Linked DNA regions of Homo sapiens: region 2 is linked to region 1. The links come from fine-mapping of genetic effects on gene expression. Tissue or cell type: sun-exposed skin. Region 1 holds a variant in brackets; the other region holds the start of a gene. All regions are shown on one strand. Distances are from middle to middle.

What was found. PIP is the estimated chance that this variant, and not a neighbour inherited with it, causes the effect.
Region 2: KRT39 starts here. The variant in region 1 is fine-mapped to the expression of KRT39 in sun-exposed skin (GTEx, PIP 0.98).

Annotation. Positions count from the first base shown.
Region 1 is chr17:40,925,055-40,933,242 of GRCh38, forward strand. KRT23 (keratin 23) reads right to left here. Exons shown (of 9, transcript NM_015515.5): 3 at 6,319-6,401; 4 at 4,886-5,042; 5 at 3,392-3,553; 6 at 3,184-3,306; 7 at 300-520. LOC107985072 (a long non-coding RNA gene) reads left to right here and starts at 3,549. Exons shown (of 4, transcript XR_001752886.2): 1 at 3,549-3,628. The variant T/G (reference allele first, on the strand shown) is at 3,373.
Region 2 is chr17:40,962,690-40,970,877 of GRCh38, forward strand. It overlaps KRT39 (keratin 39), which reads right to left and starts at 4,259. Exons shown (of 7, transcript NM_213656.4): 1 at 3,700-4,259; 2 at 1,757-1,839; 3 at 938-1,094. The coding sequence starts at 4,167. All of the region lies in intron 1 of LOC107985072 (a long non-coding RNA gene), which reads left to right.

The DNA of each region.
Region 1 (8,188 bases):
GGAGCCAAAATTGTGTGCATTCCTACTGGGAAACACAGTGGCCAAATCCTTTTGAATTGTTTCCTTCTAGAGACTTTAACTCTTCTGACTGCAAATCTTAGTGTCCTGTGAGTATTAGTTGATTAATTATACTTGCTGCTTAGTGAAATACAGCCAGCTATAGGTATCTTCTGGAGTAGCTCAACACAACTTTTCTCTTGCTAGAGTGACTCTTGCTAACAGAACCCAAAGATGCACACATATACCCACAGGAGCTGGAGGTCCCTCGCATGCTCCTCTCGTGCCAGCCTTTGCCTTACCCTTCACTCTCTCCCTCCAGGAGCCGTCGGTACGTGGTGATTTCCTTCTCCAGGTGGGTTTTGATGCCCAGCAGCACTTGGTATTCATTGTTCTGCCGCTCCAGTTCATGGCGTAGCTGCGTCAGTTCCTCCTCATAGTGGGAGATGATCTCTTGCATGTCCTGGAGCTTGCAGGAGTACCGAGACTGGGTCTCGGATAACATGTTTTCCAAAGCAGATTTCTGAAAGAGGAAATGATCTTCTGTTAATTAACTGATGGCTTGATTGAGTCAATAACAGGTGATTGTTGAGTACTTAGCAGATGTCGACCAGTTGGCTAGGTGTCTTGGTAGCTGCTGAGGACACCAAGATGAGAAGTAGGCTGACTTACAGGTTTGGGACTTGGGCAGTCAGGAGTTGAGCAGTGTTAGGACTTTTGAAGTCCATTGCCTTGCTCTGAACTGTTGTTTAACTCCTTTCATTTTATCTTTGACCTGATTGAAAACTCCCAAAGAGCGACAGCAACTGGGACTGCTATCTCTTTGTATCTTCGGAGAAGGGTCTCAATTAGGGATGCCAGATAAAATAGAGAACATCTAGTTAAATTTGAATTTCAGATGAGTAATGAGTAATTTTTTAGTGTAACTATGTCCAAAATATTGCTCCAGTATTGCATGGGACATGCAAAAAAAATTGCTTTTTATTTGAAATTCCAACTAAACTGAGTATTCTATATTTTAATTTGGTAAATCTGGCAACCCTAGTCTCAAGCAATGCTTTTTGATTATGACGATGGTAAAAAAAAAAAATGTCATTTTTTGAGGAAATTCTAACAGCTGCCAAATGAAGTTTCTGGGCTAGAATATGGAGGATTGAGTTCAAGTCCCAGTTCTGTTTGCATGTAACACCTGCTTTTCTGAAGCGCATAATTTTAACCTTAAAGAGAATCTCCTAACTGTGCTGGATACTCTCCCTTTATCGTGGCTGCTAATTTTCAGGGGGCCGTTCATGCTGCCTGGCGGTTAAAGCACATTTCCCTGGTCAGCCAGTCTCCTACTCTCCCAGGAGGTTATTTTGTTCCCTCTCCTCTGTCCTTGCCATCCTTCCTCGGAGTCCATGGCCTCGCTTCCTAATTTTGTTGATGAAATGAAAGCAATCGGGAGAGACCGCCCACTGCTCCCTACATTGCTCCCAGGCACATACTTGAATCTGCATCTGGGTGCTGGCTTCCCTCTGTTCTTTTGTGTGAGCTGTCTGTGCTCCAGTCATCTCGGCAGTTGCCCGCCTTCTTGCGTTATCAATATTCTCTCTGGATTATTCCCACCAGCTTTCAAATAGAATAATTTTTCCTACCTTAAAATATATCTTTCTTAAACCCATATCTACCTTCAGCTATCATCCAATTTCTCTGCTCTCCTTCAGCTACAGCAAAGCTCCTCAAAGAGTTGTCTATGCCTGCTGTTCCTCTTGAGACCCCTCCAAGGTAGCCTACAAAGCCCTACACTGTCTGGTTCTGTTGGGACTCCGCGGCCTCACCCTGTCTTCCTCCCTCTTCCCCTCCCTTCCCCTCCTCTTCTCTCCTTTCTTCTTCCCTTCATTCACTCACTGTAGCCACATGGACTTCCCTGCTGCTCCTCCAACTCATCAGACACACTTGTGCCTTGTCGCTTTTGCACTTGCTGTTCCCTCCTCTTGGAACACATCCCATCACCACATCAAGCACCTCCTTACCTCTTTGCTCACTGCCACTCTAACAGGAAAACCTTTCCTGACCACCTTGTTTAAGATAGCAGCTCTTCACCCTGGTGCATCTGCCCTCCTCCTCTGCTTCATCTCTGTAGCAATTTTCTCCATCTAACATATATTTTGATGATTTGCACATTTATTATCTGTCACTCCTACTAGAATATAAACTCCTTCATTAAAAAATCCTCAGTGCTAAGGATTGGTGTCAGATAGTAGAATGCATGAAAATGGGTATACATGCCTCGCCTGTTTCACAGGGCCATTGTGAAATACTGTATGTTAAAACGTTTTGAAAGTTGCACTATAATTATTTTTGTACTCATGATCTCTACGTGCACATTTGCAGTGTCTGTTCACCATCACGGATGCATAAAACACAGCAGTCATTTACCCAAGTGCACCTGCAACATAAATGAACAAATCATTGCCTCTCAAGACTGAGGGTAGAATCGCACTTGGCAATTATATGGATGAATGATTAGAAGACTCAATAGGGTATACTGGGAATCAAATGATAGACCTTCATAAATTTTGAATGCTTATGACCATGCTAAGCATTTTTCTAAACTGTGAAGATGATAGAAATGACTTGGACACAAGAACTTAGAGTTTTCTGGGTGATAAGACATATACATAAATGAATAGGGCAGTGCTTTGGAGTTAGCCAGGCCTGGATCTGCCACCTACCATGTTGGCACTGGAATTTCTCTACATTGGGGTTTGAGGGGGGTAGCCTGGTTGTAAGTGGAGAGGGCACTGATAGAAATTATGGGGGTCTAGAATCCCCCTTCCTCCAAATAAATCATATGGTTTCATCACCAGTTACTTACTAGCTGTGTGACCTTGGCCAATTTATTTTACTGTTGGAGTTTTGGTTTCCTCATCTCTAAAATGGGGACACTAAGACCTATCTGGGAAGGTTACTGTAAGGATTAATGACATTTAATATCATGAACTACTTAGCACAATGCCTGGCACCATCGGGACACTCAATACATGGTAGCCCTTTATTATGGTTCTCATCATAAACAATTTGGATGGAAAGTGGAAAGTGAGAGTTGTCCCAAGGGAGTTGAGGGTCAGGGCCTGGGAGAGAGGTCTCAGAAGGCTTCGTGAAGGAGGTGGTGTGGGATTCACGGTTTTCCTAGCCTTGACTCACCGTGCTGTACTGTGTCTGCAGGTCAATCTCCAGGGCCTGGAATGTGCGCTTCAGTTCGTGGATGTCACCTTGTCTGCTCTGCACAGTGGCTGGACTGGCTGCCTCCTGGGACATGGCTGCAGACTGTGGGACCAAGCAAGGCAAAGGCGTCAGCATTGGGACCTCATGGAAATGCAACCTTTGGGAAGT[T/G]TGTGCATCTTTCTTTTACCTGTTCTTTATACCAAGTGTCCAAGTCTCGATGCTTCTTCTTTATTATAAGCTCATATTCTTGTCTCATATCCTCCAGGACCTTAATCAGATCTTCCCTGGGACCTGTATCCACCTTCACATTGACATTGAAGTCACTTGGCACATGATGCTTCTCCATTTCCTATTTAATAACAGAGAAAGGAAATGAACCGGCTTTGACAATCAGAAGGCTGGATTGCCATGTTGATTGGCAGTGGTAAATAGATCTTTTAAACATTCCGATTATGTGGTTGCTCCCACTGTCACTGGTTTGGTTTCTCAAATATTACTTACTTGTTGGTGATAAAACATTGTATACTTTTTTCTCTAATAATTTTATAAAATAAAGAATATCTTTGAGACCAACCTGACCAGCATGGAGAAACCCTGTCTCTACTAAAAATACAAAAAATTAACTGGGTGTGGTTGTACACACCTTTAATCCCAGCTACTTGGGAGGCTGAGGCAGGAGAATCGCTTGAACCTGCGAGGTGGAGGCTGCAGTGAGCCGAGATTGCGCCACTGCACTCCAGCCTGGGTGACAGAGTGAGACCCTGTCTCCAAAAAAAAAAAAAAAAAAAAAAAGAATATCATAAGGCAGGTAATCAAATAGCCTCCATGATTACTGACTTGATCCGTGGTTGAAAATATTTCAGAAAGAATTATGCTTCCATAGTGTGCAAAGTCCTGTTCAGCAGATGTGGATTGGTGAAGTGACAACATAGTTAAGCAGCTGAACCTTACAGGCTATAGGCCAAAGCTTTTGGGAAGCAGTTCAAGAGGCAAACAGCAGAAAGAAGGTGTAGAGGCTTTCAAAATCTCATCAATGCCTTGTGACACTGTAGGGCTGACGCCCATAGGATTTCATGAAAACCAAGCAGCCACAGGAAAGGTTTAATTAACAATCATTGTCTAACCAGCTATTCAGAAACTGAGCTCTTTGATGTTGAGAAGCAATTTTGTTTTCCTAAAATGGGAACTGTTTTTCTATCATTTTATCAGAGTCTTGAGGACTTGTGATGGATGGTAACTCTAAAAGTCAGTTAAATGCTTCTGGAAATTAGGATTCTTTATTTTTGCCCCACATCACACTTATCTTGGTTGGTAGCAGACTCTCTTCATTATATTGTCCCCTAACTTGCTGAACATTGGGCCAGTGATGGAAGTCCAGTCTCACGCATTGATTCTTATAGTAACATTAACAAGCACATCTAGGTAAACATTGTGTATTAACAAAACTGTTGACCAATTCATCATTAATTATGATTGCATTTTGGTTGTTGTATTTGACATGTGACTAGCTAACCTTGAAATTAGAAACATTAGATATTTGTATGTTTTTCTAAAGACTATTTAGGGTGAAGGACAAGGGGATTGGCATCCAGGTGGTGGTTTCTTCTGTAGCTGTCGAATCAGCCTGAGATGTGCAGGCTAAGAGCTGTGCTTATTAGCAGGTGTTCCTGGGGAGTTGTACCTGCTCATGGTGCTTCTTCATGAGAATGAGCTCTTTCCTCATTCCTTCCACCTCCTGTTCTAGGTCTGTTGTGACAATGGTCAGGTTGTCTAAGGTCCTTCGGAGGCCCTCGACTTCAATTTCCAAGTCTTTCTTAAAGGAGTGTTCATTTTCATACCTTTGGTGAGAAGGAAGAGAAGAGTGCACTCATTGTTGGAAGGCCATGGTTTTTGAAAGGATTCATTTTCATTTAGAGGTGAATCTTTTACTTTTTAGGTTTAAAGAGAGCAAATGAATACATATAGGATGTCTTTTTTATGCCAGTTTCATGCTACACTTCTCCATGATGGTGACTCAATGTCAACTTTTAAATTGAGTAGGGAGAATAGGATAATAAACAGTCATATACCCATTATCTATATTTAGCAACCATGAATGTTTTGCCATATTTGCTTCATCTATTTCATTGCTGAAGTATTTTAAAGCAGATTATAGATGTGATGACATTTTAAGACTAAATACTTCAGGATGCATCTTTTAAGAAAAATATATTTTAAAATAAACAGGCCGGGCACGGTGGCTCACACCTGTAATCCCAGTACTTTGGGAGGCTGAGGCGGGCGGATCACGAGGCCAAGAGATTGAGACCATCCTGGCCAACATGGTGAAACCCTGTTGCTACTAAAAATGCAAAAATTAGCTGGGCATGGTGGTGTGCACCTATAGTCCCAGCTACTTGGGAGGCTGAGGCAGGAGAATCGCTTGAACCTGGAAGGCAGAGGTTGCAGTGAGCCGAGATCACGCCACTACACTACAGCCTGGCAACAGAGCAAGACTCCGTCTCAAAAATAAACAAATAAATAAATAAATAAATAAATAAATAAAATAAACATAACACTACACCTAAACATTAATAACAACCCTTTAATATCATCTAATTCTTGATTCATATTCAAACTTCCCCATACTATAATGTGCTTTATATCTGATTTGTTTAAACTAAGGTTCATTCAAGTAACACACAGTGCATTTGCCGTTGCTATGCCTTTTCATTATAAGATTTTAGATGCGGGTAATGGCAAGATGAGTTTTCCTTTTTTTTTTTTTTTTTGAGATGGAGTCTCACTCTGTTGCCAGGCTGGAGTGTTAGTGGCGTGATCTTGGCTCACTGCAACCTCCACCTCCTGGGTTCAAGTGATTCTCCTGCCTCAGCCTCCCGAGTAGCTGGGACTACAGGCGTGTGCCACCATGCCCAGCTAATTTTTGTATTTTTAGTAGAGATGGGGTTTCACCATGTTGGCCAGGATGGTCTCGATCTCTTGACCTCGTGATCCGCCCGCCTTGGCCTCCCAAAGTGCTGGGATTACAGGTGTGAGCCACCGCGCCCCGCCGAGTTTTCCTTTTGTAAAGCAAACAAACAAAAACCCGAACAACCCTGTGAAGAAGGAACTTACTTGAGGTTGAAGTCATCCACTGCCATCCTGGCATTGTCAATGAGAAGAATAATCTGAGCATTGGTCATCTTACCATCCACTATCTGTAAAACATGCACAAAAGCACAAAAGGTTATCTCACTTGGACACACCCACACATGACCGCTGCATGTCTGTCCTCTAGCTTCCTGAATATTTGACTTGTTAGTACAGACAACTTCTTGTTCTGGCAGTGGAACAATGAATAACCGAATCAGTAAATGCTTAGTGAGCACATACTAGGTGCAAAGCAGAATGATTTTAAAATAAGAATATGATCTGCAGTCAGTGTTACTGCCTTTTTTCTTTTTATGTTGAGTTTTGACAGGCTTGGATTGATGCAACTGCTGAAAGAATGATATAGGAAGGGGAAGGACAGTAATTGTTCAAAATGCCCTCTAACTTTTTAGGTTATGGACATGTCATAGCATTTTGCTTAATTAAGCTCATCCACAGCTGAAGATGTTAAAAGGACTTTAGGTTCTGATCCTTTTCTTATTGTATTAGGTTGGTGAAAAAGTGATTTTTGCCATTACTTTTAATTAGTTCAGCCCTCCAAAAATACAAAAATTATTATTTCAGGTGAACATAATTCTTACTTGTGATAGCAATCATGTTTCTAATCAGTGTTACTGAGCAACGCTAACACTAATATTCAATGTATTTTGTAATAGTCATCACAGAACACATTTTTTTTTTGCCCGAAGTGACTGTAACTTGAAGGTGTGTTTATGTCATTGCAACTTATTCTGTGATGAGAATGTGCTCATTGTAGCTATTAAAATATTAACTGAAATAATTCCTTACCATCTAAGGAAAATGCTTAAGAAGCTTCAGTAGTGGTAAAGCCTCCAGTTAAAGACTTTCACTAGATGTTCGTATAATTTTTTTTTTACTTTGAAAAGAAAAATAGTATTGAAAGCACTTACTCGAGCAAGTGTGTATACATTTATGATTTGTAAACACTTGTAGGTATGTTATAGTCAGAGAAATAGCACACATTTGATGTATGTCACTGTCTTTAGGGTAGAAGATGTCTCGTTGTCAAAAGTGTAATAATGCTTTTACGCCAAGTGTTGTGCTGGACTAGAAACTTAGAGCTTTTCTTTGGTTCTGGCTCTGTTCTTGACCATCCATGTGGATGCATCAGGCTGCATCACTCTACTCTCCAGGCCTCAGTTTCATCCATTGTCAAATAAGGAGTCTGTACTAGAGACAGAGGACCTTAGAGGTCTTAGCTCTAAGTTTCTGTAATTTAGTTGGAGTCAGAGAATCCTGGGTAATTCCCATTATATTTACATAGCTCATTCCTTTATTTAGAAAGCATTTTCTTAGGACAAAGCTATACTTCAGTACAAAGGCACCTTTTAAAAGTCTGGTCCTATTTAAAGCTCCACTGATCCCATGGAATTTGGTATCATGAATGCACAATAGCAGGATTTAGAGATGGCATGAATGCTGGGTCTGGAACTCAAAGAGCAGGGCCTGGGATCCTGCTCCGCGCTTACTGGCTGGGTGAGATTGGCTGAGTGAGCTTGGCTGAGTCTCAGTTTATTCATCCATAAAATAGCAATAACAATAGTTACTTCATCAAAGAGTTATGAGAATTAGAAGAGAGTATGTCAAATAATGTCAAATAGCATATTATCGGCATATTATAGACAGTGAAAAATTGGTCGAAACTGAATTTGTTCAGAAAAAAGTAAATAATACACCTTTCTTTTTAAAAATCTAGCACTTTTATAGATTCAGTGACTACACTGTGAACATCCCCAGGTTCTATATGCTGAGATGCCTGCTCAGACTTTTGCTGTTCATGGTGGGACATAGCCAGGCTGGCTGCTCCTGCCTC
Region 2 (8,188 bases), 38 kb after region 1:
TGATTTACAGGTGTTATTGAGATGCTATAAAATGATTTAAGACTCTTTCAGGTAGGACTGTGTGTTTAAATGTGTGCAAAATTAAAAAAAAATGAGTAGCAAGACCAGAGTTCCAAAAAATTTAGATCATTTCCAGGGCTGGATAATGGGTGAAACAGGATAAAGGTGGAATTGATCATGAGAGATTATAGTCTCTATGGTGCAAATACGGGATTGTGCCAATATTGACTTGCACCAATATTGACTTGTACCAATGGGAGGTGGCAGAAGCCTGTATAGGGATGCCTACAAACATGGGAAGACTGTAAGGACAGAAAAATTGGGTTCCTTCTTGTAGAAAAGCTGGAGGGGATGTTGGAGGCCTTTCTTCCCCTTATGGCTCCAGATATTGTGTTGGAGCCAGTGGATTTGAAATACTACCTTGAACCAGTGCTAGTAGCAGTAGGTATTTTCAGGGCTAAACCAGAGTAGTACGTAGCAGTGGTTTGGCTCTGTGTCCCCACCCAAATCTCATCTCGAATTGTAATTCCCATAATTCCCATGTGTCAAGGGAGGGACCTAGTGGGAGGAGATTGGATCATGGGGGTGGTGTCCCCCATGCTGTTCTTAGGATAGTGAGTGAGTTCTCACAAGATCTGATAGTTTTATAAAGGGCTCTTCCCCCTTTGGTCTCTCTCTGTCTCCTGCTGCCAAGTGAGATGTGCCTGCTTCCCCTTAAGCCATGATTGTAAGTTTCCTGAGGCCTCCCCAGCCATGTGGAACTGTGACTCAGTTACACTTCTGTCCTTTATAAATTACCTACTCTCAGTTATTTCTTTATAGCAGTGTGAGAACGAACTAATACAAGCGGGCACACCCTTTGTCAGGTGCAACTCAAAGGAACTGATGCTACTTTTAGGGACTTAGCTTGTGATTACTCTATTGGTCTTTGTCTCACCTCTTTGTGGTTGTTCTTGAGGCAAAGGAGCTCCTCTTTCAGAGACTGGACTTGTGCCTCTAGGTCGGCCTTGCCCAGGGTCAGCACATTCAGGATCTGCTTGAGGCCATTGGCATCTGACTCTACCAGCTGGCGTAGAGACACCTCAGCTTCGTATCTTTAAAAACCAGATGGGAAAAGAGAGACATCTGAAAGGAGATGATGCAAACCAAGCCAAGCAGAACTCTCATCTGCATTTTGCTCTGGGCACCTCACTTAGTGTATTTCTATTAGAAGTTTTATTCTCTTTGGAGGTGAAACCATTTGATATAGATCATAACTTAATTATTATTCCCAAATTAGTTTGCTAGGGGGATCTACATTGCTGTTCTTTGAGATATGGGAATTTATTGTCCTTCCTCTGCCCCTAGTGGCAATGCAATGTAAGTGAAGAAAGCACTGGATTAGGGCTCAGAAAACATGTGTCCAAGTTTCGGTTTTGACTTGTGCTAGTTATGCTTACCTTTGGGTGAGTAACTTAGCCTCACTAAGCCACAGATTTCTCACCTTAAAGAGAGTAACAATATATTAGTCCTATCTATTTTACTGAACTATTGTGTAGGTAATCAAATGGGTTCACAAGTTAGAAACTATAGGTACTGTATACATGTGAGCAGTTATTAATCTTAATCATTCATTGAATTTGAAAGTCTTTTCTGGGCTTGTGCCAACATCATCTGGGGCAAGAGGGTTAGTAGACATGGGGACAATTTTGTTGAGGGCATCTCGGTCAGACTCAGGGTGAGCTCTGTCATTGATGACGGTGTTGGGTGGGCTTACTTGGCTCTCAAGTCATCTGCAGTCAGTTTGGTGTTGTCAATTTGCGAGACCAGTCTGGAATTCTCGGCCTTGGTACACAAGATCTAGAATTAAGAGATTGTACACACAAATGAAGCAAACACCAAGATTTCCTTCTTTAAGAACCAAGGGGTTTGTGTGTGTGTCAAGTAACAGGGGAAGGCTAAGTAGACTTTTTATTAATCTTCATAGCTATGCTCACAAAGCTTGGAAAACTTCAGAAAGTCAGATTTCCTGTTATTTTCCTAAAAGATCAGCAAAAAGTACTTAACTAGAAACTTTTAAGTATTTTTTTTGTTGTTGTTGTTAAAAAATCCAGGCTGAGAGCAGTGGCTCACCCATGTAATATCAGCACTTGGGAGGCTGAGGCGGGCGGATCACGAGGTCAAGAGATCAAGACCATCCTGGCCAACATGGTGAAACCCTGTCTCTACTAAAAAATACAAAAATTGGCCGGGCGCAGTGGCTCACGCCTGTAATCCCAGCACTTTGGGAGGCCGAGGCGGGTAGATCACGAGGTCAGGAGATCAAGACCATCCTGGCTAACACGGTGAAACCCCGTCTCTACTAAAAATATAAAAAAAAAAAAAATTAGCTGGGCGTGGTGGCGGGCGCCTGTAGTCCCAGCTACTTGGGAGGCTGAGGCAGGAGAATGGCATGAACCCAGGAAGCGGAGCTAGCAGTGAGCCGAGATCGCGCCACTGCACTGCAGCCTGGGAGACAGAGCGAGACTCCGTCTCAAAAAAAAAAAAAAATACAAAAATTATCTGGGTGTGGTGGTGCGTGCCTGTAGACCCAGCTACTAGAGAGGCAGAGGAGGGAGAATCGCTTGAACCTGGGAGCTGGAGGTTGCAGTGAGCAGAGATCGCGCCATTGCACTCCAGCCTGGTGACAGAGTGAGACTCCATCTCAATAAATACATAAATAAATAAATAAAAAATAAAATAAAATCCATCCTAAATTTATATAAATACCATGATCCACTAGAATGTCAACTCCATGAGGGCAGGGACTTTTTAAAGGTCACCAATATTTTCCCAGAATCTAGAACAATGTTTGGCCCAATGTTGTTGCTGCTCAGTAAACATTTGTTGAATGAATAAAACTGAATAAATCCAGATATGTAGTAGCAGAATACGTCTGTGCATAACAAACTTAGGTTTGGTGTAGAAACAAACCAAGCAATGTGGAGATGATAACATAAGCATAAAAGGAGAAAAAGGTGGTGATGGTTGAAAAATGGATAAAAACTAAATTGCTTAGAAACTCATTAAAGCAAAATTTATTTTCTCTGATCTCTGTTTCCCTATTTTTATTTAAAAAATGGCAACAACTTGCTGTTAACATCTTTTGGTCCTGAGTCATCTAGTTATAATGGTAGAGTGTATTTCTGGAGAAAGGAAACACCATGAGACTCTTCTTTTTGTTTCTGATTTTTAAAGACATAGTCTCACTTTTGTCTGGGCTGGAGTGCAGTGGCAGGATCTTGGCTCATGGCAGCCTCAACCTCTTGGGCTCAAGTGATCCTCCCACCTCAGCCTCCCAAGTAGCTGGGACCACAGGCATGTGCCACCACGCCCATCTAATTTTTTTTTGTGTGTGTATGTGTGTGTGTGTGTGTGTGTGTGTAAGGATGGAATTTCATCATGTTGCCCAGGATGGTCTAGAACTCCTGGGCTCAAGTGATCTGTCTGCCTCAGCCTCCCAAAGTGTTAGGATTACAGGTGTGCATCACTGCGCCTGACCAGAAATACTATCAGACTCTGAATGCTGCCTCAAGATGACAATTTCACTCAAGAAATTTTTCTATTCTTCAAAAAAATTTTCAGCATCAACTGAACAAAAAATATTAAAGTTTAGCAAATAACTGTTGCTTGGAAACCATTAATTCACAACACGATTAAACAGGTTCTTAGGAATCTTACCTTCTGCTGGAGCTCCTCAATGGTAGTGTAGTAAGACAGGTAATCAGGACATAGAACAGGGAGCTCTTTGTTACTTTCTTCCTGGATTTTAGATTCCAGTTCAGCATTCTCTCGTTCTAGCATTCGCACCTTTTGCAGGTAGTTAGCAAGGCGCTCGTTCAAGATTTGCATGGTCTCCTTCTCATTACTGTTGATGCCTTCACCATACCAGCTGCAGTCATCCAGAGAAAAACGGGCATTGAAGTTGTTCATTAGGTAGATGGGCTTGCGACAAAAGCGAGGAGTGGGTTGGCAGCCCTGGTCCCAGGGAATTCTGAGAACGTGGCCAGCTGGTTGACAGTTGTTGACTGTAAGGCCACCAGGATGGCAGCCGTTGTTAGAAGAGATGGTACTAACATTTGTAATCCTAGAGCAGTTTTGACATGGGGTTGAAGGAGAATTGGTTGTTGTACAGCCCTTGGTGTCCATAGTATGTGTCTGGCTTTAGTTTGTTCCAGGTCTGTGGTCACCAGGATGAAAAGCTCAAGCCACCTCCACAGAGTCTGAATTCCAAGGCTCTTGGTGTTTTCCTCTTTGAAGTGCTTATATAGCCTCTCTTCTACGTGGTGTCACACAGGTGGGATGTTTTCCTTTCTCAGGTTTATATCAAATCCTGTAGGAACATCTTATTAGTCTGCTTTTTACTTGCTTAAGAAGAGTTATTTGTCTCATAAACATGTGCATTTAGGCTGTTAGTAAGTTATTACCCATCATAACTACTACTTGTCTATTGGACCCAGAGCTTCAAATTATGTCTTCAAAAGGAACTGTCCTAACAGCATCCATTATTAAGCAGGTGTGAGTATACTAAGTTCATTACATTCTTGTTGACCTCTCCACTTGGCACTGAGCTTAACCAGGAATGAGTTCATCCTTCTTTTCCTTTCTTCTCTAGAAAAGGGAAACTATTAATGTTTAATAATTATTGGTAAACTTAGAAATCAGAAGTCAATATTTTAGTTTGTTCTGCCCAAATGGTTTCCCCATTTTCAGTGTCAGGACAATGTGAGTATGAATTAAAATGTTAGTCTTTTAAAAGTCTTGTTTTAAAGATAATTGCTAGATTTATGTTTTAGCTTTCCATAAAATGTAATAACATAAAATAAAATATAAATAAAATATGAAATAAAATAAAAGCCATGGGGAAAAGGTAGGGTTTGATTGCTAATAAGAAATTTCTTGGAAAAGAGACTAGCTCTCTTTTGGTTTTCCAAAGTCCACATTTTATAACATTTTTAGTGCTTGGTGTTTGCTTGTGGTATTACATTAGATAAAAATGTATCACAGTGTTGGTTTATACTGGATGTTTAAATAGGATTCATTGAAAGGGGTGTGTTTTCTTTCTGAGGAATACTTACTCAGCATTTTCTTCAGAAAGTTACTTGCTGCTAATCCTTTATGGAGGCTCTAGGGGAACATCATTTTCTTGCCTTTTCCAGCTTCTACAGGCTGTCCACATCCTCAGCTAGTGGCCCCTTTTCATCCTTTTTTTTTTTTCTTGAATTATGAGATTTTTTGTACTTTGAGTTCTGGGATACATGTGCAGAACGTGCAGGTTTGCTACATAGGTATACAAGTGCCATGGTGGTTTGCTGTACCCATCAACCTGTCATCTACATTAGGTATTTCTCCTAATGCTATCCCACCCCTAGCCCCTCACCCCCTCACAGTCCCCGGTGTGATGTTCCCCTCCCTGTGTCCATGTGTGCTCATTGTTCAACTCCCACTTATGAGTGAGAACATGCAGTGTTTGGTTTTCTGTTCCTGTGTGAGTTTGCTGAGAATGATGGTTTCCAGCTTTATTCATGTCCCTGCAAAGGACATGAACTAATCCTTTATTATGGCTGTATAGTATTCCATGGTGTATATGTGCCACATTTTCTTTATCCAGTCCATCATTGATGGGCATTTGGGTTGGTTCCATGTCTTTGCTATTGTGAATAGTGCTGCAATAAACATACATGTGCATGTGTCTTTATAGTAGAATGATTTATAATCCTTTGGGTATGTATCAAGTAATAGGATTGCTGGGTCAAACTGTATTTATGGTTCTTGATCCTTAAGAAATTGCCACACTGTCTTCTGCATTGGTTGAACTAATTTACACTCCCACCAACTGTGTAAAAGTGTTCCAATTTCTCTCCATCCTCTCCAGCATCTGTTGTTTCCTGACTTTTTAATGATTGTCATTCTAACTGGTGTGAGATGGTATCTCATTGTGGTTTGATTTGCATTTCTCTAGTGACCAGTGATGATGAGCTTTTTTCATATGTTTGTTGGCCACATAAATGTCTTCTTTTGAGAAGTGTCTTTCTATATCCTTAGCCCATTTTTTTGATGGGGTTGTTTGTTTTTTCTTGTAAATTTGTTTAAGTTCCTTGTAGATTCTGTATATTAGCCCTTTGTCAGATGGACAGATTGCAAAAATTTTCTCCCATTCTGTAGGAGGCTGAGGCAGAAGAATTACTTGAACCCAGGAGTTCAAGTTCAGGTGGGCAACACAGTGCGATTTCATTTTTAATAAAATAAAATAAAATACAAAATAAAAGCCATGGGGAAAAGGTAGACCGTTATATGTATTATATGTACTTTGGGGACAATTTTGTATTCCCTTTGGTGTGGGGGCAGGGAATGTTGAAACCATACTTCATCCTTTACAGTGGGACGAATTACAAGTAGATCAAAGATTGAGATATGAAAAATAAATAATAAATATGCCCAAAAGGATAATTATTTTATAAATTTGGAGTCAGAAGACTTTTCCAATGATGACTCAAAATTAAGAAGCCGTAAAAAACTGTTAGATTTGACTCCATAAAATAACAGTGTTTGAACTTGTGCTTGGGTGAAAAATACAACCTGTAAAACCAGAAGACAAGATGACAAACTGGGAAACAATATTACAATTACACTCTAGACAGTGACCAAAAGGAAAATACAAAAGGCACTTAAAATAAGAAAAAATGCTCAATGTCACTCATGAAAAGAGAAATGTAAATTTAAATTATACTGAGATATTTTAGTTTTCCACCTATCAAACTGAAAAAAATCAAAGTTTGATAACAGATACATTCACTGCCTATAGCACTCTCATTGCTTGTGGCAATGAAATGTAAATTCATGCAAGTTACTATAATGCTACTACAATTAAAACAGTGTGATATTGGCATAAGGGTTGGAAAGTAGATCAATGAGAAAGAATATAGAGTTTAGAAATAGACTCACATATATGTGGTCAATTGATTTCTGACAAAGATCCCAAAGCAAGTCAATGAGAAAAGGAAAGCTTTTTCAATACTGTTTTTTCAATACTGTTCAATACTTGTCGCTGAATCAAGTGGATACTTGTATAGCCAAAATGAATACATCTTGATCTCTACCTCACGCTACGTATAAAACTTAATTCAGGTTGGATTAAACACTTAATTGTGAAGATTTCAAGTCTAAAGTTTTTAGAAGAAAACTCAGAAGATTATATTCATAACCTTCTGCCATGAGAAGACTTCTAAGCTCATGGAGGACACTATAATAAATAGATTAGACTTCATCAAAATGAAAACCTTTTGTTGATCAGATAAATAGCTAAGAAAGTGAAAAGGCAAGCTACAGCCTGGGTTAAAATATTCTCTCTCTCTCTTCATACACCCACCCCCCAACGCACACATTAGAACACATACATACACAACGTCATATCTTTTGTAACAATGGGAATATATTCTGAGAAATTCACCTTTAGTGATTTTGTTGTTGTGTAAACATCACAGTGGACTTCATGAACCTGGATGGTATAGCCTATAACACACTTAGGCTATATGGTATAGTCTATTGCTCATAGGCTGTAAACCTGCACAGCATGTTACTGTACTGAATACAGTAGGCAACTGTAACACAATGGTAAGTATTTGTTATCTGGAAACACATTTAAACATAGAAAAGGTACAATAAAAATATGACATTATAGTTTTTTGGGACAGCTTTTGTATGTGTATGTTCCATCATTGTTGACTGAAATGTCATTATGTGGCACATGACTCTATAAATAAATATGTGTATAAAAATAAATAAACACATATTTATTTATACAGTAATATACTATCTCTCTCTCTCTCTCTCTCTCTCTCTGACAAAGGACCTCCCCCAAGGACCTAGCAATTTCATGGTTAGGTATATGTCCAAGAGAGATGAATGTATATATTTTATACACACAATAATATTTGCACAAGAATGCTTATAGCAGCTATATTCTTAATAGCACTAAAATAAAAATAACTGCTCATAAACAGAATAATGGACAACAAACTGTGACATGTTTATGTAATGGAGTAGTATGCAACAACAATAAAGAATGAACTGCCGGTACTCATGACACCATGGAAAAATCTCAAAAACATATTGAGCTGAAGAAGTCAGGCACAAAACAGTACGAACAGTATGACTACATTTATATTAA